Homo sapiens: one gene and its partners. The main gene of each other region encodes a partner of the protein of the gene in region 3 in a complex. Each region holds a gene or a part of one and is shown on either strand. Other genes may lie near its edges.

Evidence for each region.
Region 1: the proteins of RHOA (region 3) and ARHGEF12 are in contact, whole or in part, in a crystal structure (PDB 1X86), measured with the Homo sapiens proteins. Residues at the interface, in NP_001300870.1 of Homo sapiens: Arg5, Lys7, Thr19, Lys27, Val33, Tyr34, Pro36, Thr37, Val38, Phe39, Glu40, Asn41, Val43, Asp45, Glu54, Trp58, Asp59, Ala61, Gly62, Gln63, Tyr66, Asp67, Arg68, Leu69, Leu72, Ser73, Asp76, Glu97; in NP_056128.1 of Homo sapiens: Pro766, Asn768, Gln770, Glu790, Val791, Glu794, Thr798, Ala801, Cys888, Gln891, Pro892, Lys899, Arg922, Arg923, Leu924, Gln925, Lys927, Asp928, Pro931, Thr932, Met934, Gln935, Thr938, Lys939, Leu942, Leu943, Asn946, Arg968, Leu971, Asn972.
Region 2: the proteins of RHOA (region 3) and ARHGEF28 are in contact, whole or in part, in a crystal structure (PDB 6BC0), measured with the Homo sapiens proteins. Residues at the interface, in NP_001300870.1 of Homo sapiens: Arg5, Val38, Phe39, Glu40, Asn41, Tyr42, Val43, Glu54, Ala56, Trp58, Arg68, Leu69, Leu72; in NP_001171164.1 of Homo sapiens: Lys1140, Ile1142, Arg1144, Glu1145, Val1146, Ala1147, Asn1148, Glu1149, Phe1154, Ile1156, Ala1158, Ser1159, Ser1160, Pro1163, Glu1164, Met1165.

What each region holds. Positions count from the first base shown.
Region 1 is NC_000011.10:120,331,713-120,339,895, reverse strand, and holds the start of ARHGEF12 (rho guanine nucleotide exchange factor 12), read right to left. Parts: upstream 3,484-8,183; 5' UTR 2,653-3,483; coding exon 2,621-2,652; exon of another isoform or gene 2,027-2,620; intron 1-2,026. UniProt on the Homo sapiens protein: May play a role in the regulation of RhoA GTPase by guanine nucleotide-binding alpha-12 (GNA12) and alpha-13 (GNA13). Acts as guanine nucleotide exchange factor (GEF) for RhoA GTPase and may act as GTPase-activating protein (GAP) for GNA12 and GNA13.
Region 2 is NC_000005.10:73,621,891-73,629,678, forward strand, and holds the start of ARHGEF28 (rho guanine nucleotide exchange factor 28), read left to right. Parts: upstream 1-4,305; 5' UTR 4,306-4,432; intron 4,433-7,788. UniProt on the Homo sapiens protein: Functions as a RHOA-specific guanine nucleotide exchange factor regulating signaling pathways downstream of integrins and growth factor receptors. Functions in axonal branching, synapse formation and dendritic morphogenesis.
Region 3 is NC_000003.12:49,366,760-49,374,496, reverse strand, and holds part of RHOA (transforming protein RhoA isoform 1 precursor), read left to right. Parts: intron 1-5,948; coding exon 5,949-6,069; intron 6,070-7,737. UniProt on the Homo sapiens protein: Small GTPase which cycles between an active GTP-bound and an inactive GDP-bound state.

The sequences.
Region 1 (8,183 bases), on a different chromosome or scaffold from region 3:
AGAGAGCAAGTTAATGTGTTGATTTAACTGCAAAATAATAACAGGATGTAACAGAGTTCTGAGTATCCAAAGTGACCAATCAGAGCCTAAACATAGCTGAATTCCATCCCAGCCCCAGCACGTCCCTAACACAAGAATAAAACCCTTATCTTGTTCAGCCATGTGTCGCCTGCCACAAACTGCAAAACAGAACAACGCCCAAAACCAGCTAGTCTGATTTCAACTGAGGACAGACAGACTCTGTAGTCAGAAGCACCACAATGAAAGAACTCTAACTCACACAGCTGGCCTGGTGGTTCTGCACACTCTACGAAACAAAGCCATACCACATACAGCACTTCAAACTTGAAAGGATCTCTATCTAAAAAGCTACACTGGTGCTGTTAATTTTCCAACAGTTCTAGAGTCAGCAAAATATACCTACAGTAAGAGTTAGACACTACGAAAAAAGGATGAGGTAGGGCTGACAGAAAGCTAGAAACTATTATATACTCGTAACTTTGTTAAGACACCTTGGCAGAGAAATAATACTAAACCAGTACCTCCAGATTTCACCCCAACATATATTCATATTAGGAACAACTACTCTCTTAACAGCAAATGGATGCTTTATATTTACAAAATATATTTAAATGTGGTCAAATAAGAATAATTCTTAATAAAAAAAGACCCTAGTAAAAAAAAATCCTACGAAACAGGTCTCAGCAGTGCTTATTAATTGGCTTTCCAAGGTCTTTTCTTTAAAAAAAAAAAATGTAAAATTAGGCAGCAGCACCTGAACCAGTTCAAAAAACATTAATGCCCAAACCAATTTGCAGATTAATCTTACAATATTCATTTTGTAATCTCTTGTGCCTGCACAGTGCCTGGCCAAAAAAAAAAAAAAAAAAGAAAAAGAAAAGAAACAGGCTTTCAGTAATTTCATATTTATTGAATGTTTATATGCCATCTACGTTATAAAGAGGATACAAATTCCAAGATTCTATTTCCAAGATAACGAGAAGACAAGGAAAATCCCTGAGAAGCAATGCTGAAGAAAAACCATTACTTGAGGGCTTTTCACTCACTTGTGTGTGGAATGAGTCCGTTCTGTTTCCATAAATTAAACACCTCAGCATCGCAATGAAAACCAACATTACATTAGTTCCTAGCAAGACTTTTGTTTACAGGCTCAACAGAAAGAGCGAGAATTGAATGAAGCAGGAAAACAATTATCCCCACACCCGTAAAAGTGATTTCTCAGAAGCAAAACACCCTGAAAGGAAAAAAATGGGGATAACCAGAAGAAAGTAAGATAAGCATTGTCAATACTTATCTTAAGTGTATTCTTGGAAAAGTTAAAAATTATTTCATTGAAAATGAAAACCCACTTTGAAAAATACACAAAGAGTAAATATAAATACTTTAAATATTTAACAGACTCTTTTAAGTGAACATTCATGTGATGCTGGAAAGCATCAACAGGAAGAGGAAGTTCTGTTTCTGGAGTAGCTGTTATGGTATGATAATGGAATTTGGCCCTTTTAAAATCAACAAATGAGTCTTACAATTGGGTAAAACTCTTATTAGGAAATTAAGACTACTTTGTGCAGAAGCACTATTGTTGCACTTTTCATCAAAGAGCTTTGGCCCTCTAATTCAGTTACTTGATCTATTTTTTCACGGTGTAATAATTCGAAGACTGACTTAAAAATAAAGCAAGCTGACAAATTTGGGACTAGCATGCAGTGTCATAATTAAATTGAGAATGAAATGTGGTCAAGGAATCAATATGCTTTTTATCCCTTACCCTATAAACAAGAGTAACTTAGGATAAGCAAACTGCACTTCAACCACACATGGTCTAGCTCAATTCGCCACCCACCACCATGCAACACTGGTAGGTGCTATAAAGGACAGACACAGAACTCAACAAATTCAGCTGCGCGCTTACACTATGCTTACGGCTTATATCTCTTAAACGCCAAGTGTTTCTGGAAGACGAAATATTTAAATACAAGAATTAAAAGCAAACCCCATGATTTACCCTCATTTCTTCAGCTCCTGGACATTGCTTCCAGCAAGAACCTGTGATTTACTGGTAATGTCAACATTCTGGAAAGTTATTAGATAATAATTAAACACCGTGCAGGTCAACATCTGAAAGAGATCAAGTTCCCAGATCACCATGCAGTAGGCTCAACATTAAGTTCACAGGTAGAAATTCCTAAAATGTAATTGTCTTGAGAATCTACTGCAGGACACGGCTAAAGCTGATAAATAATACACCAATACCGAGCCGACTTCAGGCACCGACCTTCACCTAAAATGACCTTCTCCTCTGATTTCCAGACGAGTACACAATCCTAATGCACACTACAGGCGGAAAACCACAATCATGGTTTTGCCTCCCCCTTCTCTGAGAATCGGAAGGGAAGTTTCTCTCCGGAAAAATTACATTTCCAAAAGCCAATCAACTGGATAACTCGGCAGCAACCCCAGGCTAACTGCACAGCTCCGAAACAACCCTCTTTCCTCTGCCTGTCAACTTCGCTGGCCAAAGGCAATCTGCAATCACCGACTCCCCTGCTAGGTCGGGCCCGATTCCGGGAGGCCGAACGAAGGAGGAATTCATACCAACCTGTCGGTGATAGTAGACTGTGTGCCACTCATTGGGGCCCTTGGCGAGAGGTCCTCCTTTTATCCAACTTGCATTTTACAGTAACACCTCCTCCCCACCCCCAGTGCTCTGGGATCAGGCCCAACTCCGTCAGGGACACAAAAGTCCAACTCAAAACTCCATTCAGTCATCTAGACCATCCGACTGTAAGGGGTCAACGGATGCGGCTTGGAGCAAAACAAGTTATCTCCCAAAACGAACTGAGAAAGCCAGGGAGCGAGTCAGTCCAGAGTGAGTCGAGCTAGAGAGAAATCCTCCAGAAGGCACAAGGATAAACTTCCTCAGAGAGGGAAATCCGCGCGCAGTGGGAAGGGGACCCGGGACTCCCGCCGGGGCTGGGGCGGGATCAGCTCACGGACGGGTGTCGGCTCCTCCTCCGGAGTCTCGGGGCCTCGAACTCCCCGCCGCGGCAAGGGCCGGGGCCCTCCCTCCCGGCTCTCTATCTGGGGCTGCCGGCTGCTCGTGGCCGCAGCGTTGGCCGCGTCTCCGGCCGTCCCGCGCCGGGCTCGCGCGATTCCATGTCCCGGGCCCGGGGCTCCTTCTGTGCTCGCCGCCCTCACCAGGCTCCCGGTGCTGGGACGAGCCGCTGGCGCCGGCGGAGAGGTCCCGCGGCCCGAGGTGACAGGGACCCGGGTCTCTCAGCGCCGCGGACTGCTCCCCATCCCTTTGAGGCCCGGACTCTTCCGCAATCGCCAGAGGCGGCGGCTCCTCCCCGACGCTCCCCGCGAGGGGCGGGAGATGCCCGTCCGGCCCGGCCTGGAAGCCCTGGTCCGGGAGGCGGAGGCGGCGGCGTCTCCCGGCGCAGGGCCGGCTCGCCGGGTTCTGGAGGCCCTCGCGGGCGCGCGCGCAGACAGCGGAGGAGGCCGGCGGCCGTGGGGGCCGCGCAACCGCGGGCGCGCGCGCGGGTTCCGGTTCCGGTTCTGGTTTCCCGGCCCTGGCCGCGTCCGGCGCGAGCTCGCGCTTCCCGTCCCCCGCCGACTTTATGGCCCCCTCCCCTCTGACTTCGGGAAGCCGCCTCACCCGGGATCCCTCCGCCGCTCAGGGCCGCGCTCTCGCCCTTGAACGGACGCCTCCGCCGGAGCCCGGTTTGGGAGAGCGGCAAAGTAGTCCTACGGGGCAGAGGGAGGTGGGACCCGTGCAGCCCCGGGAGGCCCACCCACCTCCCGCGGCGCCTGGGCCCCTGAGTGCCGAGACATGCCCCTTCGAGTCCAGTTTGTACTAAGTCGACTTTCACCAGAGACCGCCCGAGAGCGCCCCCCAGATCCCGAGGACATCGTGCCGGGAGGCTCTTTGAAAATTACCAGCCCCCCTTGTCCTGGAAACTTTTATTACTTAAGGGAATGTATTATCTCTCCTGTCTTCTGGCTGCACGCGTTCTGCCGGTTCCCGGCCGGCGCCCCTCGCTGCCTCCGCAGGCCCCGCTCACCTGGGCACCTGCCGGCTCCGGGGGGAGAGCGCTGCATGAGCCGGAGGCGCAGGGCTGCGGGAGAGCAGCTGGGGACTGCAGCCAGGGTTTCTCGGTATAAATATTACTTTTAGGCTGTTTCTGCCTTGGCAAAATGAAATGTGTTATTTGCCAAATTGATAAAGCATGGTGCTTTCCATGGCGACTTAACAAGCGTGTTGTGGAAAGAACTGGGAGAAGAAAATGAAGTATATTTATCCAGTAAATAGCATTACGGTTCTCTCTGAAGGATTCCCAAACGGTTTTTCGGTTTTTTCCCCTACTGGGTAGAGAGCTTTAGATACCCATCTAGTTTTATGATTGAATAATTCAGTATTTTGGCAATTTAGGTACCACATGTAATACAGTTCTTCAGTTCTGCCTGCAAACATCCAAAGTGGCTATTCCCTTTATCCAACTATTTTCAGACTTTTGAGCTTAAACCTATGTTGGTGACAAGGGATTTCAGCCATTTTGTGGAATCCAAGTAGCAAATCAAATCTAATAAACAGTGGATGTGGAGAGAGGAAACAATTACCTCTTAACAATGCTGTTGCAAAAAGTCATTCCGCAACAGTTCATGAAAGGATCATTATCCCCGAATAGAGGCATGAGCTCACGCTGACGTTAGTTAGAACGGGGGGGAAAAAAAGGAAAAGATAAACAGAGACCAGAGACGACTCTTTATTGCTCGATTTTTTAGGTTCAAGGCACAGCCAACTAATTTTGTAATGTTTATTTTTGGAAAGAATAGAAGCAGATTAGCCAAGGCACTTCCCTAATGATGAGACCAGGACACATTGCCACCTGCTGGTGTATTCTAGCATGACAATTCTACCCTGAAGACTCTTAAATTGAGTGTTTACATGCAACCGGAAGGAATCCCATTCATATATATATATATATATATATATATATATATATATATACACACACACACACATATACACATATACACACATATATACATATATACACATATATATACATATATATACACATATATATACACACATATATACATATATATACTGACCAAAATGCAAACCTTATCCCCAAACTTAATAAATCTTTCTTAAAAGTACTAAATATCTTATTTTCCCCTATCCTAATAATGTTACAGTGTAAGTATAAAATTAATTGAACCCAATGACTCATCAAATCATGCATTTTGGAGTTCCTCTCTTCCCTTAATACTTGAGGGAAGCCTCAATACTTAAGCTTCAGGAATAAAACAAACTGGGAAAGTTTCCTAATTCACCTTCTCTTCCTTGCATACAAAACCTCTTGGCAAGCTGCTTTCAAGATCTTTCCAAACTTAAACAGACCCACGGTTCTAGCTGTGAGCAAAGAAGGCATTTTGCTGTGGGAAAGCTTCAGAAGATGGTAAGCAAAAGATTGAATTAAGCCAGTGGTTATTCATTCCAGAACTAATTTTTTTAAATGATGAAAATCTCTATAGTCACCTACAAAGCATTAATGATTTAAAAAAAAAAAAAACTGAAAGCCTCTTTAAAGCTGCCGATAGCTCAACTGTTCTAAAGGCTGTAACTATAGGATGCCTTCAGAAAGTCAAGCCAGTCTGGGTAGAACACACTCCTCAGGGTCCGTAGTACTTTACTTAGAAAAATGACATTGATGACCCAATCCACTGGGAAAACCTTTGAGGAGGTTTTCCAATGGGGATGATTCTAAACCACATTCTCATCCTCTTGTCCATTCTTTCAACATGCTTACTAAGTATCTACTATGCATCCCAGACTGTTTTAGGCATTGGTAGTACAGTCCTCAAGACAGGGCCTCCAGCTGTCTTCAGATGATGTCTCTGATGTCAACTCACTTGACATCAACATTTTCAAGACAAGTGTCCAAACAGGTGGCAGAACAAGAAACACATTAAGGTTCTTCCTCTCTCTTTTGGCAAACTGTTTTGTGTATGTCAACTGTTACCCCCCAAAATAAAAAAAAATAGGGGGAATGATGGATAATGAACAGCAGATTAGAGATATTCACTAGTAAGTATGAATACAGGTCAACATTTCTACAGGTCAAAAGGCTTTTTTTAACTTCTTGGCAAAACCACCACATAAATATAAAGACAGACTCTGGGTTTATAAAAAGTTGTTTTACTTTTATAAAATTTAGTACAAATCTTATGGAAATATAAATCGTTCTTGAACAGTGTTCGTTATCATTACACAGTAATCCAGTGCAAATGAGTACTTCATTTTGTCCAAGTATACCACACATTAATTAGCCCTTCATTTACCTGTGGTTTCAGAACTTAGCATTGTCTTAACTGCTGAGTCATCTTCAGTTCACATTGTTCTCTCAGAAGTTTTTTCATAGTTATTAGTAACAACATCAAGAAAAGCTGAAATGAGGGATTCCCTTCCCCTTACCAATTATTCAGATTTCTCACCATTCAAAAAAACCTACATACAGTTCCATGAAAGTGTCCCCAAAACAACAAGATCTGCAGTCCCTTCACTTCTGAGGAGTAAGAGAGAAAAAGAATTGGTACCAGATTAAGCCTGTTCATTTGTCTGGTATGGAACAGGTTGCACTGTGCCAAAATTCAAGAGCCAGCTTTTTTTCTTTTTTTTAAGCTCATGTGCCAGGCCACTCTTTTCTACAAGCTTTTGCTAAAATCAGCATTCCCCAGCATCCTACTTTGACCGCAATTTTGTTGGAAAGAAGCTTACCAGCATTTTAGGGGCGCTCATCATAGAAAAAAAAAAAGTGGAGATTAAGAAAAAAAACAGGAAGTGGAGATGCTGTCAGATTATCTCAATGCCCAGCAAAACTCTTTAACCAAATGACATTCATTTTTAAAGACCCACTGTTAACATGCATTTAAAGTTACTGTTTCCCTAACAGTGATGACTTTATACCATTCCAACCACTCCCTCATACCTGGTTTCTGTGGCCAAGACCATTTTTCATTTTCAAGACCGCTCATGGCTGGGCACGGTGGCTCACACCTGTAATCCCAGCACTTTGGGAGGCCGAGGCGGGTGGGTCATGAAGTCAGGAGTTCAAGACCAGCCTGGCCAACATGGTGAAACCCCGTCTCTACTAAAAATACAAAAAGTAGCCAGGCATGGTGGCACACGCCTGTAGTCCCAGCTACTCGGGAGGCTGAGGCAGGAGAATCACTTGAACACAGAAGGCGGAGGTTGCAGTGAGTTGAGATCACACCACTGCACTCCAGCCTGGGCGACAGAGCAAGACTCTGTCTCAAACAACAACAACAACAACAACAACAACAAAAGACACCATTCATTACGTTAGATTACCAGTGGCCATGGAATGGACTGATGCTTCCTACTGACCAGCCTTGACTCCAGTAGCACCATATGCTTGCTCACCCACTGAGCTAATCAAACACCATTGACTTCAATAACATGGTAAAAATAAATAATCAATAAATACATAAATACTTCATATTTCCATAAAAGCCCTACATTAAAGACCTCCATTAATAAAATGCCACATAATGTATTTATGAAATATACTACAGGGTATTTCATTCATTCACAATAGGTTTAAACTCAGGCAAAGAAGAAACAAGTAACCTATCCAAAGTGAGTGAGTAGCTCTCCAAAGTGGCAAGTGAGTAGCAAAATTAGTTAAAAGAACCCAGGAATTCTGGATTCTTAACCCCTTGTTCTAAGCTTATATTCTTGCTTCTCTTGGAGACTGTCACACTAAGAATTATTATTTTTTTCCTTCCAAGACTGGCCTTGTTTTATTAGTTTGTTCATAGAGTGGTACCTTTTTAGTAAAAATAAGAAAAGTAGGAGGAGTACTAAAAGGGAAAGTATCTAAAATGAAAAAAAAAAATTAACCTCATCCCCCTGAGGCCAGTACACACTTTAAAGTCTTTGGCTCTAGTTTGCAATATGTACAGCAGAGCTGAAATCTAAACTGCCATCTCAAGCACAGTGGAATCCACATGATAAATCCCTATGGAATTTAGTCATAGCCTCAAATGCCTAGGAGATTAATGCACAAAAGCCCTGAGAACTGGCATAGTTTTCCTGGTAGGGCAGAACCCATATAACAGGACTCAGTAAA
Region 2 (7,788 bases), on a different chromosome or scaffold from region 3:
GGGCTGGCTCCACTCAAAAGGCGTATTTATAATTTCCCCAATATCTTCCTTTTGCTCATGTAAATACCAACATGAAAATATCAGCCACAATGAGTTCCATGTGCTTTCCTAAAAATACCTGAGACTAATATGGACTTCAAGAACATAGCTGCATTATGACTTTTGTAGGATCTGGGCACTTTTGCCTTCATACGCACCTTCCTCCAGAAAAATAAAAATGTAGATAAAAAGAAAAATTATATTTCACTATTGCATTGTTATAGATACAAATATATTAATATTATATGCTAAAACATTTTCTTTGACCTAAAAGTTCATTTTTCTCTTCTGATTTTAAAAGAAATTAAAATATTTTTTGGCCCCTATAAGTATTATAGACCCTAGGCACTGAGCTTGCTATACCTGACAGGTAAGTTGCCCCTTTAGGGAAGACCTCATACTGAAAACTGGCTAAAAACAACCTATTATTTTCTTCAAAGATTGCAAAATATTAATTTTTTGCATAGTTGGTGCTCAATAAATATCAGTTGATTAAAAATATTCAGAGATGTTAAGACTTCTCCTGTAACAAATCTGAATATTTCTCTCTAAATCTATTATTTCGCTCCTCAGAGTATGGTCCACAGACCAGTAGCCTCAGCCCCAACTCAAACTTATCAGAAATGAAGAATATCAGACTCCATCTGCTACTAAGTCAGAATTTGCATTTTAACAAGATCCCCAAGTGACTCATATGCAGATTACACGGAAGCCCTGCTCACCTGCAATTTAAACCTGATGGTTTAACATTGGAAATGGAAGAGCTGATTCCCCTTAACCACATATAATTGAGTGCGATCCTCACCCTCCTCCAGTGTCAATACATTCAGTTCCTTTAGTCCAGTGGTTCCCAACTTTGGTTGAACATTGGAATCACCTGGAGAGCTTTCAAAAAACGACCAATAACATGGGCCCAATTTTCTGGAGATTCCGAATGATTGATCAGGTGGGCGTTCTGGGAATCAAGATTGTTTTAAAGCTTCCCAGGTGATGCTAATGTGTAGCCAGAATGAGAACTACTGTGTGGATTTCCCCATGAGATCTGTCCCCTGGTTTTAATAATGTTGGCCTCTTTTCTCTGTGTTCTCCGACCTTCCTAGGCTGGACAACCAAGTTTATAATCCAGAAATAGTTTCTTGTCTTGGGGTCTGCCATGCCCTATTAATTATCTCAAAGCTCTGAAGTGTTCTCCTAATACAACCATACACTAAAAGATTAACTGCCACTATTTTCCACATCCTTATTATGTGTCCTGTAATCACTTTCAGTCACGTAATCCTCACAATGATAGTATATGCTGTTCTTATGCCCATTATACAGATGAGGAAATGGAGGCTTAGAAAGGTTGTATCTTCCCAAGATCATCCTATTTGTATTCCAGAGTTTGTTCACCTCCTATTAAATCTACCATTTTCTAGTATCTTGCTTTCACTTAAGAAACACTAGTAATTCCCTAACTCACGTGGCTAAACATCAGATTTACAATTATCCAATTTTTGAGAATTATTGACAAAGGAAATATAATGAAGGCCAGGAAATAATTAAATAGATAATATAATTAGCAGTGGTTATAATTCATTAAAGTTTGAAAATGGTGACATTTTTCTTCTTGCATAATGGATGTGATAGTTCAATTAAAAAACAAATACTAAATACTCCAGAAATGCCCTGTGTTGGGACTGTGAAGATTACAGGGGTAAGGAACAGGTTTTGTCCTTGAATTTCAAGTTGAAGGGAGGATAAGAGCCTACAGTTGTCCAACATGTGACAGTTAATATAATCAGGTGCTACACTGTGTAGTAAGGCCATTATGCTTTGCCAAAATTCAGAGGGTAGCAGAAACCAGGACAATGTAAGGATTTATGGAGGAGGTCTATCTGGAGTGAAGTATGTAAGGATGAATGGGGATTGAATCTCTAGAAAAGACAGAGCTGAGCTAGGACATTGGCATAATACTCACTAGGCAGTTAGAATTTCCCTAACTGAATGGCCAGCCTGGTTTCTTGCTGGCTGAATGTCCCTTGTCTGTAGAGAATATATAGTCTTTGAATTCAAAACAAATGCTGTCCCAGCCAAGCTTAGTGCCAGCAATGTCCTGAGTGACCTATATCTGGAGCAGTGAAATCAATCAGGTGCAAAGGGTTATTTACACAACTGATAGCTTCCTGCCTCAGATAGTCACGGCTTCTTTTAAGGTTGCTGAAGCAAACACTTTGCTTAATATTTGAACCTAGAGAAGTTGAAAGCCAAGTACGTATTTAAATATTGATCAAGCTCAGGGCTTGAGAGCAGGCAAGAAAACTGCAGCTAGCATTGTATGTCCTTGGGTGGTGAGAGTTTCACAATTACTAGTTTTGCTGGTTTCTTTTTAGTGGGGAAGGGGCTTGGGGGTAACTTCTTATAATATTTGTTCCTCTTTCCACATTTTTTTGTTTTTTAAAAAAAGATACATACCTGCCAGAATTAAAAAAAAAAAAAAAAGAAAAAGAGGGCTTCAGTACTAGTGATATGAAAAAGGACAATAACAACAAAGGCTTCTAACACATCACCATGTTTATTCACCAGAGTTTGGAAACCATTTTTGTCTGGCATGTTGATTCAGTTAATCTTCAGTTCAAGTGATTCTCCTGCCTCAGCCTCTCGAGTAGCTGGGATTACAGGCACGCACCAACACACCCAGCTAAATTGTGTGTTTTTGTGGAGACGGGGTTTCACCATGTTGTCCAGGCTGGTCTCGAGCTCCTGACCTCAGGTGATCCACCCGCCTCAGCCTCCCAAAGTGCTGGGATTACAGGTGTGAGCCACCACGCCCTGCTCAAAATTTTTTCTATTTTTGAAAAGAATATTATTGCTTTTATTTTTATCTTGTGTACCTTGACACTGGGCAGGATATATATATATATTTTTTTTTTCTTTTTTTTTTTTTGTGGCAGCGCCTGAGGCCAGGCCTTGAGTTCACAGCTCTGTGGGGCTGAGGGTGGAATCAGCTGGGATGACAGCCCAGGTCAGGAGTGCAATGCCAGTGTTGGGGTCCCTTTCCCAAGGCGGAATTGCAGCCTTTGCCTTGGAACAGGGCTAAGGCATTCAGACACACGATGGTCTTTCTCTTGCTAATCTCAGCCTTTCTCAGCATTCGTATCAGCAAGGTGGGCTGGGGAAGGTGGCGGCTGGAAGGGAGACAGAAAAGGCCCAGGCCCAGGAGAAGTGGTGGTGGCAGCCTGGGAGCTGGGCTCCATTCTGGCTTGGGATCTTGGTGGCCAGCTTCCTCGGGCCACACCTTTGTTATGGTTCTGTGCGTAGCCAGTCTTCAAAGGAAAAACAAAGCAGAGACTCAAGGTGATTTTATAAATTTTATTAGAAACTTTATATTTCAATACTAATTTCCTTACAAATAGTCTTAACTATAACACTTACTGCCACAGCAGTCTCAGATGGGCAATTTTACCTTTAAAGCTGCAATAATGGTCTTAAGTCTGTATATGAGAGCCTGGCTGATGAAGAGGCTTGGCTTCTGCTCTTGGGGCTGTCATCACATCTAAGAGGAAAACTGCTTTGGAGGATAAGGAAGTCCCTTCACATTGCTGTTCATTGTAAAAGTGGTTATGGTTTTCATACGTTTTTGAATTAAGACTTGCAGCCACTTGCGTGCATAAACGTGAAGGGAATCGCAGCTTGCAAAGCTCTCGGCCAGGGAACATGAGCTTCAAATAAGAGGGCAAATGCTGTTTTTAAAAATAATATTTCCTATTGTAATAGACCCGGGCCGTATTATGTCACGGGTGTGGTGGCTTTTGGCTGGGAACAGCCTGAGCCTCCCTCGGGCCTGGCACAACTCCTTTCGCGAGCGGGCAGCCCAGCGCCTCCCTCGGGAGGCGCCAAGGCGTGGGGGCGCCCGGGGCGCAACTGGCACTCCTGTGGCCCGCCAGGTCCGCGCCAGCCTCCGCGCCTCCGATCTCCGGAGGCCAACGGCCGCAGCCCCGCAGCGGGAGGGGGCTGGCGGAGACAGCGCGGTAGGGGCAGCTTCAGGTTTCCTCCTGGAGCCGGTGTCGGGCGCGGCCGGCGGGCGGGCCTCGCCATGTGATGCGGCCGCCGCGAGCCGGGCCGGGAGGTGGGCAGGCGGGGATCCAGTGGCAGCGGGGAGGCGCGGGGGGAGCGGGGGGAGCGGGGGCGGCACCCGCTGCTGGCGCAGCCAGCCGGGCCCGGGCGCGCGGCCGCGGCTCCACCCCCTAAACCTTGGCTTCAGCCCGGCCGCCGCCAGGCGTTGGCATCGCCGGGGAGAGCCTTCCGGACTCCGGGCGGCGGCTGGCTGGGGGCGCGTTCCGAGGCGCCCTCAGGCAGGGCGCGGGGGCAGAGCCTCGCCTGGGTTCTGGAGGCTGCGGGGCCATCGCTCCAGGTAAATGCTCTTTGGGACTCCATCGTCTGCGTTTCCCTGCAGCTCTGGGCGGAAAAGTTTGTCCACCTGAGTTCGCATCCGCAGGGCCACTTTCTCCAGGGTCCCCAGGGATGCGAGGGTCAGCAGAGGTGACCGGGGAACCGCTGCAGGCGCTGCGGCGCGAGGGCTGGGCGCCGCCTCCCGCTCCCTCGGGAGCGGCAACAAGTGGAGAGGGCGGCGCAGCCTCGTGCGGCGGCGGCAGCTGCGGAGCGCGGGGTCGCTCGGGCGCACTGAGAGCCGGGGGCTGGGCGGGTGAAAGCCCCGCCAGTGTCCTTCGGGAGACAGGGAAATAAACAGCACTCCTGCGGTGGAGAAGGGAGAACGTCGAGAGTTGGTGTCCGCCCTTCCCATCCATGCTTCAGCTCCGGGACTGAGGGTGCTTGGCAGGGCCAGGACCGCAGAATGCAGACGGAACGCAAGCTCAGGACACACGCACTACCACTTACTCGTGTGGAAGCATCTGCTGTGTTTCAAAAGGCATTTATGGTTACCTTGGTTGGGAAAGGTGGTCAGAATTATGTGGGACTCCTTACGCTTATTTTATGGATTTGTTTCCCCTTAAATACCCGGGGTGTATGTGGTGGTGCCCCAGCCTTCCCGTGCTTAGGTTTTCCGAATGACAGGCCGGTGTTTGGCCAAGAAAGCACCATTTGGGTCGAGGGCTGTATGGAAACTGGGTGCTCAGGCGGCCCTGGATACCCAGCTTTGGTTTCCCAGAGACCAGTTAGATTTCTAAGAAAGAATCCATCTCTATAGGCCCACAGCGTCCCCGCATTGGTTGGCTGGGTGGGCCGAGGAACAGTGGCAACATCTGTGTTTGTGCGGCTTCTCCCGCCTTGACCCCTGCCTGGGTATCCACACATCTCCTCACACCAGGAGTTATAGAGGTTCACCACGGACCACACCAATTGGGCAAAATCCAAAGAAAGTAAGATCTTTAATTTTCGTTTATAAAGAACTGATCATTTGGGGTTCCATGGGGCCCCTGGCTTTCTGAAGCGTTGTTATCTTGTGTTCCTAGGCCCTGAAGCTGTCAGGTGTAAGTGAAATCCTGTTTTCACTGCAAAAACAAATCAAGGACCTACCCTTGTTAGGTTCTGTGGCATCTACTTTGTACATGACAATCCAAGCGTAGTGATGACTTCTGGGAAACCTGGGAAGGTTTCTCTAGATCTGTCCTGGGTTTTTAGTTACACATTCCTAAAGCACATGGGTATTTGCCTAATCTTGATTAATAGCCAAAGTAACCCCTTTGGAGTATTTGCAGAAAAGAGATGAATATGGCAAAACCCTTTGGAATTTTTAATACAACATAGTATTTCAATGTAATGTTCTGATGTGGACTCTATATGTGATTATTGGGCTGATTAACTTTGATCAAATAGGAATTTGGCTAGCATCAGATCTTATAGCTAATGGTTAGGGAAACTGAGGCTCAGAGCTAGCTATAGAGTGTGTGACTCAGATGAATGTCTTGGGTAATGGGAGAATGGAGAACAGAGAATCAGTGTTTGTCCTGCTTTTGACTTTTTTTTTTTCCTTATCAAAACCACACAATCTGGCCAACTAAGAACAGGTTGTATAGCAGGCGTGTCATTAGACTTTCCTCTGAAGTACCCAACTGTCCTTTAAGCAGTTTATAAACACTTAAAGGTAAAGAAGAAAAATAGTAGTTAATAACTAAGTTTCTATGAAATGTCTCAGAAGCCTCACTTGGGTGGGTTTCATACTTTTTTTTTTTAATTATGTGAGTACTGCAGAAGAGTTTGGAATGTTTTCTTATTGTGTTCTTATAAGAAACTACACTTGTGGCTAAGACTTAAATTGGGCAGGAATTTCAGGTGAGCTCTGATACATGACCTCCTTTAGTATGCCCCGTGAGAAAAGACTATGTGTTCTAAGTAGGTATTAAAACAAATTGCAGCATATACTATTACTTCTATATTAAACATTCTGTACACCACTATATTGGTACCCAAGCTCCAACAAGTCCTGCCAGTTTATGACCAAGGACTGAATTCCAAGAAAAAAAGATTCATGATATAAATGTTGGAAAAGCCTCACCACTTGGGCATGGCTAGGATGGTACTGAACAGAGCCTAAATTACCTAGGCTGACTATAATTTTATTATGCTTTTATTTACTAATCAGATATGACAGATCTGGTTTGTGTAGGTTTTGTGTAATTGCATTTGTATTTATGTTGCTTTTAGTGAAGCAGAGTAGCTCTGGGATCCCCCCACCGGCCCCCGCCCATAACCTTAAATAAGATTTGTTATGAAGAGGTGGGTCAACCTGGGCAACTCCTACTGAGGATGTAAAAACAGTGTTACATTTGAAGTGCACCAAATTCAGGGAATTCTGCCATGCTAAAGTTGTGCTGTAAATATGCCACCCTGTCAGACTTGAGTCCACATCTCTACTTAGGCAAAGCTGGGCTTTGAGATATTTTTCTTGCTTAAGAAGTGTAGGTCAGGTCCTGTATCACAGAGCATTTTGCTCCATTTGTATGATACTCTGCCATTTTGTCCAGTCTCTGTGACCCTTAGTTCTTTTGTTATTATCATGGTATTGGAAGTTCTCGGAAGCCCAAGGCAGTGTCACTCTACTATTTTGCCATTTTGACAATCTCTATTATGGGGCTCTCTTTCTATGAACATGTTCTTCATTTACATTCATTCAACTAATATTTGTTGAAGTCTTACTATGTGCCCAGCACTGCTCTTTGCTTTGATTCTCTGATCTTTGGATTCCGTGTTGAAGGTGACACTTTTCTGGCTTTAGAGTTTTTAGGGTCTGTTGCATTTTCGGAGTAGACTTTTGCACACTCCACATTAAGACATTTGGCTGGCCAGGGTGGGGGTGGTGGCTCATGCACATAACCCCAACACTTTGAGAGGCTGAAGTGGGAGGATTGCTTGAGCCCAGGAGTTCAAGACCAGCCTGGGCAACATGGCAAAACCCTGTCTCTACAAAAAAAATACAAAAACTAGCCAGGCATGGTGGTGTGTGGTGTGTGCCTATAGTCCCAGCTACTTGAGAGGCAGAGTGGGGAGGATAGCTTGAGTTGGGGAAGTAGAGGCTGCAGTGAGCTGAGATGGTGCCACCACATTTCCAGTCTGGGTGACAGAAAAAGACTCTGTCTCAAAAAAAAAAAAAAATTAAAGACATTTGACTGGCAAAATAAGTCATGTAACTTATTTTTTTAATGTGATAGTGCATCTTCTTAATTGACTTCCATTTTTCCCTTGAAATTTGATCTCAGGCACAATAGTAATTTGCTTATTTGTAACATTATTGCTCCTGGACTTCTTCTC
Region 3 (7,737 bases):
TCCACCTGCCTCAGCCTCCCAAAGTGCTGGGATTACAGGCGTGAGCCACCTTGCCCAGCCATATGTGCTCTTTTCAAGTTTACGTATATTTGAAGTTTAGTTCATTGCCATATAGATAATGCTCAGATGAACTTCTTTGTATGCTTGGACTTTGACAAAAATTCTGTCAAAGTATTTAATCAGATGTCCCAGTATTAGATTACTAGTTCAAGCTCTGCCTCCTGGGTTCACGCTGTTCTCCTGCCTCATCCTCCCAAGTAGCTGGGACTACAGGTGTCCACCACCAGACTGGCTAATTTTTTGTATTTTTAGTAGAGACGGGGTTTCACCGTGTTAGCCAGGATGGTCTCGATCTCCTGATCTTGTGATCTGCCCGTCTCGGCCTCCCAAAGTGCTGGGATTACAGGCATGAGCCACTGTGCCCGGCCAAAAGATTTTTTTTTACTTTAACATAAAATAGCCTGCCACAGTTGTTTTATTTTATTGTCATTGATGGTGAGAACAGTGCTTCCCCATTTCTGTCCTAAAAGCCCTCTGGCAAGACTGGAACAAAGCTCTTGTGAAATTGGAGGGTTTTTTTGGGTTTTAATTTTGGTTTTGGTTTGTTTTTGTTTTTTTTTTTAATCTTCTGCTTCCTTTTGTTGTCTAAGTAATGCTTTGCTTGGCCTCTCATACTTTTTTTTTTTTCTCTTAAATAAAGAGACAGGGATTGTACTTTGTCTCCCAGGCCTGCAGTGCTGTGACATGATCATGCAGCCTTGAACTCTTGGGCTCAAGTGATCCTTCCACCTCAGCCTCCCAAATAGCTGGCACTGTAGGTATGTGCCACCACACCTGGGTAATTTATGTTTTTAGAGATGAGGTCTTGTGTTGGTCCAGCTGGTTTCAAACAACTGGGCTCAAGTTCTTCCATCTCAGCCCCAAGTGGCTGGGCTTACAGGCGCAAGCCAGCGTGCCCAGCTCTCCTATACATCTTTTGAAGTGGGTCAGCTGAAAGGAAAAAACCCCTAAAACTAGAATGAGGTGCTCTTCTCCAACATTCTCATTTTTCTTGAGCATTCAGTTATATGTCTCATATGCTGCTAACACTTGATATATTAGCTTCCATTCATCCCCTTTCTCCTTTCTTACTTTGTTTTTGTTTGTTTGTCTAGAGACAGAGTCTCCCTCTATCACCCAGGTTGGAGTGCAATGGCATGATCTTGGTTTACAACAACCTCCGCCTCCTGAGTTCAAGCAATTCTCCTATCTCAGCCTCCCGAGGAGCTGGGATTACAGGTGCCTGCCACCAAGCCCAGCTAATCTTTGTATTTTTAGTAGAGACGAGGTTTCGCCATGTTGGCCAGGCTGGTCTCGAACTTTTGACGTCAGGTGATCCGCCCGCCTTGGCCTCCCAAAGTGCTGGGATTACATGCATGAGCCACCGTGCCTGGCCACTTCTACTTGTCCACATTACTTATTTCTTTCTGTCCTAGGGCCACCTAGCCTCCTTTTGTGGCACTGTGTGAGGAATGTGGGTTAGATCAGCTGCTCAGAACTCCAGGGTCCCTCATTGTAGGGCTTCCTGATAGTTGTTTGACCATCAGTAAGCTCCTGACCTTTGAGCCTTCCTCATTTGTAAAACGGTTTTTATAGGTGACATCAAGGTTCTGTGAAGTAACGGAAAATGTTTGGCAGCACCAAAGCGCTTTCTAAGAGATGAATACTGCCATGTTCAAAACCCTCTTTCATAGTTTGTAGTCCTTTTTTTTTTTTTTTTTTTTGAGACAGAGTCTCGCTCTGTCGCCCAGGCTGGAGTGCAGTGGCGTGATCTCTGCTAACTGCAACCTCTGCCTCCTGGGTTCACGCCATTCTCCTGCCTCATCCTCCGGAGTAGCCGGGACTACAGGCGCCCGCCACCACGCCTGGCTAGTTTTTTGTATTTTTAGTAGAGACAGGGTTTCACCGTGTTAGCCAGGATGGTCTGGATCTCCTGACCTCGTGATCTGCCTGCCTCCCAAAGTGCTGGGATTACAGGCGTGAGCCACTGCGCCCGTCCTATAGTTTGTGCTCTTTTTTATTCAAATACAGAGTGAGCCACGATGATTGCTCTTATGCTAATAGGAACTCTAAGATACTTTCTGGCCCAAGTATAGATGGAAAAAATACAACAAATACCAGCCTAACAGAATTTTGGGATGTACCCTGAAGGTGGCAAACCAATACAGAGGGTGTTAATTCAGCCTCAGCCAAGCATGGATGCTTGGACATAGGTGTTTTTGTGGTCCTGATAGGAAAACTGGTTTTATATGGACACAGGGCCCAGTTGTGACAAACTAGGTAGAAATGTGATGACATCTTCAGGATTGGTGTCAAGTTATAGCCCTCTTACCTAACTTAGATTGATGCACCATACATAGAAAGATCCATTGGCTTGGGGAAGCAATGTCAGGTTGGCATTTTCATAGCTTATTTCTCAAAAGCCTAGTAGTGAATGTATATTACTGGTTGTATCCTAACATTTTCTCCAGAGAGTGGCTGTTAATTGCTGCATGTCTGTAAGCATGAACTGGAAGGGTCTTTTCCATCTGTGGCAGTATGTATGTTTTGGAAGCAGCTCTTTGGTTCTCTTGGAAACATTATTTCTGCCTGGGCATCTTGGAACAACCAGAATCTTGCCCATAAGAAATTTAGAGACCTTGACTTAAAACCTTGAGGCATGGTCTGTGAGTATTTTTCTTGTGCTGCAAACCTTGGACATCACTGACCCTCGCAAGATAGGGGGAGGTTCTCACTTGAGGAGAGTCCCCTGGAATAAAAGTGTTTGATTGAAGAGCATATTACAGGCTACCTGCCTGCCTCAGAGCAACTCAAGAGTCCCCAAGATGGGAGAGGGTACTGTGTAGGAATATTCATTTAACAGTATGCAATAGTATAAGGCCAGACGTCGTAGCTCACACCTGTAATCCAGCACTTTGGGAGGCTGAGGCAGGAGGATCACCAGAGGTCAGGAGTTTGAGACCAGCCTGCCCAACATGGCAAAACCCAATCTCTACTAAAAATACAAAAAATTAGCTGGGCGTGGTGGCAGGCACTTGTAATCCCAGCTACTTGGGAGGCTGAGGCAGGAGAATCACTTGAACCTGGGAGGCAGAGGTTGCAGTGAACTGAGACTGCGCCACTGCACTCAAGCCTGGGCGACAAGGGCGAAACTCTGTCTCAAAAAAAAAAAAAAACAGTAGGCAATAGTACAGCCTAGGGAACCATACAAGATTGTAGGTGATCATGGTACCAAGAGTAGGCCTGCTCACAATGAAAAGGCCCCTTTTGATATGAGACAGACTCAACATCTTGGAAGCATTTTATCAAGCGCCAATAGAGGCTGGATATATGACTAAACACCGTGGGGTGGAGGGGGCCGGGAGAGTGGGATTTGCCAGGGAGTAAATGAGCTCCATTATTGTGAGGGCAGACAGATTGTGATAATTGGGCATCAGTATATCTTAGTTACACATGCCAGAATGATGGTTTGCATGACAGAAGTACAGTGGGCCTTGTGGAGGTTATTTGTGATGCATCCTGGGGCAAAAGTTCGGGGGTGGAAGAGCCATCAATTTTAAGGAAGAAATCATTTAGAAACTGAAATTTGGGCTGTGAAGGTGCTAAGAGAAGAAAGATGTGTTCCAAGTATTGGAGGGAGACCTCTTGGGCCTCAAAGGGCCTCTGTACAGAGGATGTTTAACATGGAGTCTGGTGATAAGAATGGGGTAGCAGAGCTGGGTGCAGTGCTGGGCAGTGTTGAATGGGACTTGTATTCAGAGCCCAGGCATCAGTTTACCCTTCTACCACAGGAGGGTGAGGATGTACCCGGATGTGAAAGGAGTACTCTCTCACCTTACGTGATGCATTATTTCAGACATTTCTTGAGTAGTAAAGGCACAGCCAAAAGGGCTTTCCTGTCATCTCAGGCCTTGCCTAACAGCCAGCATGGTGTCTTTTCCTACCTACCAACTCAAAATACAGATTTGTTTCCATGGTTTCCACATTATAGCAGAAAATTTACTTAGTCTTGTATCTTCCTCTCTCGCCTGTATGCCTGGTAGGATGTTATTTAAAATTTGATTTCTTCCCTCCTGTCTGCTTTCTTTCCTAGTAGAATGTTATTTATAATTAAACACTTTTATAAGCTACAGAGTTATTTTTGACTTGACATTTTGAATTATGCCACTTGGTTCAGTTCTAGTATCTGTTTTGTTTTTTTGTTTTTTTCCTAATTGAGTCAAGGTCTCACTGCCTAGGCTGCAGTGCAGTGGCACAATCTCTGCTTACTGCAACCTCCGCCTCCCGGGCTCAAGCAGTCCTCCCACCTCAGTCTCCCAAGTAGCTGGGACTACAGGCGTGCACCACCACAGTCAGCTAATTTTTTTTTTTTTTTAAATGGAGTTTCGCTCTTGTTGGCCAGGCTGGAGTGCAGTGGTGCAATCTCAGCTCATTGCAACCTCCACTCATTGCAACCTCCGCCTCCTGGGTTCAAGCGATTCTCCTGCCTCAGCCTCCTGAGTAGCTGGGATTACAGGCATGCTTCACCACGCCCAGCTAATTTTGTATTTTCAGTAGAGATGGGGTTTCTCCACATTTGTCAGGCTAGTCTCGAACTTCCGACTTCAGGTGATCCGCCCGCCTTGGCCTCCCAAAGTGCTGGGATTACAGGCGTGAGCCACCGCACCCAGCCCACACTCAGCTAAGTTTTATTTTATTTATTTTTTTTTTTTTTAGAGATGGAGGCTCGCTTTGTCGCCCATGCTGGAGTGCTGGAGTGCAGTGGCACGATCTTGGCTCACTGCAACCTTTGCCTCTCGAGTTCAAGCAATTCACCTGCCTTAGCCTCTCCAGTAGCTGGGACTACAGGCGCACGCTGCCGTGCCTGGCTAATTTCTTTCGTATTTTAGTAGGGACGGGGTTTCACCATGTTGCCCAGGCTGGTCTCGAACTCCTGAGCTCAGGCAGTCAGCCCGCCTCAGCCTCCCAAAGTGCTAGGATTACAGGCATGAGCCACCGCGCCTGGCCACACTCAGCTAATTTTTAAGGTGTTTTTGTAGAGGTGGGTTCTCAGATTTTCAATTTTGAGAAATTTCAACCTAAAATAATTTAAATATACTCTCATTTGAGCTTGATGCTCATAAAAGTGAATACTCGGCCGGGTGTGGTGGCTCATGCCTGTAATCCCAGCACTTTGGGAGGCCGAGGCAGGCGGATCACGAGGTCAGGAGATCAAGACCATCCTGGCTAACATGGTGAAACCCCGTCTCTACTAAAAGTACGAAAAATTAGCCAAGCGTGGTGGCGGGCGCCTGTAGTCCCAGCTGCTCAGGAGGCTGAGGCAGGAGAATGGCATGAACCCGGGGGCAGAGCTTGCAGTGAGCCAAGATCTTGCCACTGAACTCCAGTCTGAGCAACAGAGTAAGACTCCGTCTCAACAAAAAAAAAAAAAAAAAAAAAAAAAAAAAAAAAGGCCAGGCGCGGTGGGTCACGCCTGCAATCCCAACACTTTGGGAGGCCGAGGCGGACGGATCATGAGGTCAGGAGATCCAGACCATCCTGGCTAACACAGTGAAACCCCGTCTCTACTAAAAATACAAAAAATTAGCCGGGTGTGATGGCGGGCACCTGTAGTCCCAGCTACTTGGGAGGCCAAGGCAGGAGAATGGTGTGAACCCGGGAGACGGAGCTTGCAGGGAGCAGAGATCGCGCCACTGCACTCTAGCCTGGGCGACAGAGCAAGACTACATCTCAAAAAAAAAAAAAAAAAAGAAAAAAGAAAAAATGTAAATACTCCTGTGTTTTACTGTTTTAGACCGTCTGCCATTTCAATGGTCTGCCATTTCAATGTACTATGGTAAGTGTCACTTTTTCTAAAAGTGGGTGGGGGGATTAACCTTGCACTCTTGTGGTTGTTTTTCCCATTACAGGTAGAGTTGGCTTTGTGGGACACAGCTGGGCAGGAAGATTATGATCGCCTGAGGCCCCTCTCCTACCCAGATACCGATGTTATACTGATGTGTTTTTCCATCGACAGCCCTGATAGTTTAGGTGAGTGGCCCTGCACCCTGATATTTGTCACTGCCTGTGTAGCTAGTTGGCATCTGGTTTCTGGGCATCAAGTGGCTGAAAAGCAGACATGAACTTCAGAGAAGCAATCATCGTCAGTGGCCGGAGTCCTGGAGTTTGGGATTGTAGAGCGTGGGCCTTGGGTCCCTTTCAGCCTAGGTCTCCCATGGGTACTGTATTTAAAATGTATCCACCTAGGCAGGGCACGGTGCCTGACACCTATAATCCCTGCGCTTTGGGAGGTCCAGACGGGTGGATCACCTGAGGGTCAGGAGTTCAAGACCAGCCTGGCCAACATGGTGAAACCCCGTCTTTACTAAAAGTACAAAAAAATTAGCCAGGCATGGTGGTGCACGCCTGTAGTCCCAGGTACTTGGGAGGCTGAGGCAGGAGAATCGTTTGAACCTGGTAGGTGGAGATTGCAGTGAGCCGAGATTATGGCACTGCATTCCAGACTGAGCAACAGAGCAAGACTCTATCTCAAAAATAATAATTATTATTATTATTACTAAATAATATTAAATGTTATTTAAAAATCTAACTGCCTTGTAAACTAGATGAATTCCAGATACAAAGATGAGTAAACTAAGGCTGGTGCGGCGGCTGACACCTGTAATCCTAGCACTTTGGGAGGCCGAGGCTGGCAGATCACCTGAGGTCAGGAGTTTGAGACCAGCCTAGGCAACATGGTGAACCCCTTGTCTCTACTAAAATACAAAAATTAGCTGGGTGTGGTGGCGTGCACTTGTAATCCCAGCTATTCCAGGGGCTGAGGCAGGAGAATCACTTGAGCCTGGGAAGCAGAAGTTGCAGTGAGCCAAGATCATGCCACTGTACTGCAGACTCCATCTCCCAAAAAAAAAGATGAGCAAACTAGATGAGTTCCAAATGTAAAGCCATCTCTTTTGGGGAAAGACTTTCTTTTTTTTGGTTGCCCTGTCTTAGCCTTTTTCTGAAGTGTCTTAGCTGATAGAAGCTTGAATGTGATCATTTCATTAGCCTAAACACAGCCACATAATTCAGAAGTCAGTAAGTCAGTATTCTTTTTTTTTTTTTTTTTTTTTTTTGAGAGGGAGTCTTGCTCTGTCTCCCAGGCTGGATTGCAGCAGCTTGATCTCAGCTCACTGCAAGCTCTGCCTCCTGGGTTGATGCCATTCTCCTGCCTCAGCCACCCAAGTAGCTGGGACTACAGGTGGCCACCACCACGCCCGGCTAATTTTTTGTATTTTTTAGTAGAGATGGGATTTCACCACGTTAGCCAGGATGATCTTGATCTCCTGACCTCGTGATCCGCCTGCCTCGGCCTCCCAAAGTGCTGGGATTACAGGCGTGAGCCACTGCGCCTGGCCCAGAAGTCAGTATTCTTTAGAAAAAGACTGAAGAATGCTAACCTGACATTCTGTGAAACCAGGCTTGAAAAAACTTGCTTTAGGTTTGTGCTGAAGATGATGAGGTATCTATTAATAAACTTGTGCTGCAGCCCTCCCTGTCATGACAGGGCAGCAGGTGGGTCAAGGATGTTGTCGTCATTACCACAAACAGCCTTTGAGGGTCTGCTTGTGGCCTCGGGTTGCCTGGATAGTTAGTGTTAGAGTGATTGTGTTGTTATGGTTGTCCCTACCTTAATGATGATAACTGGGGTTGCTCCAA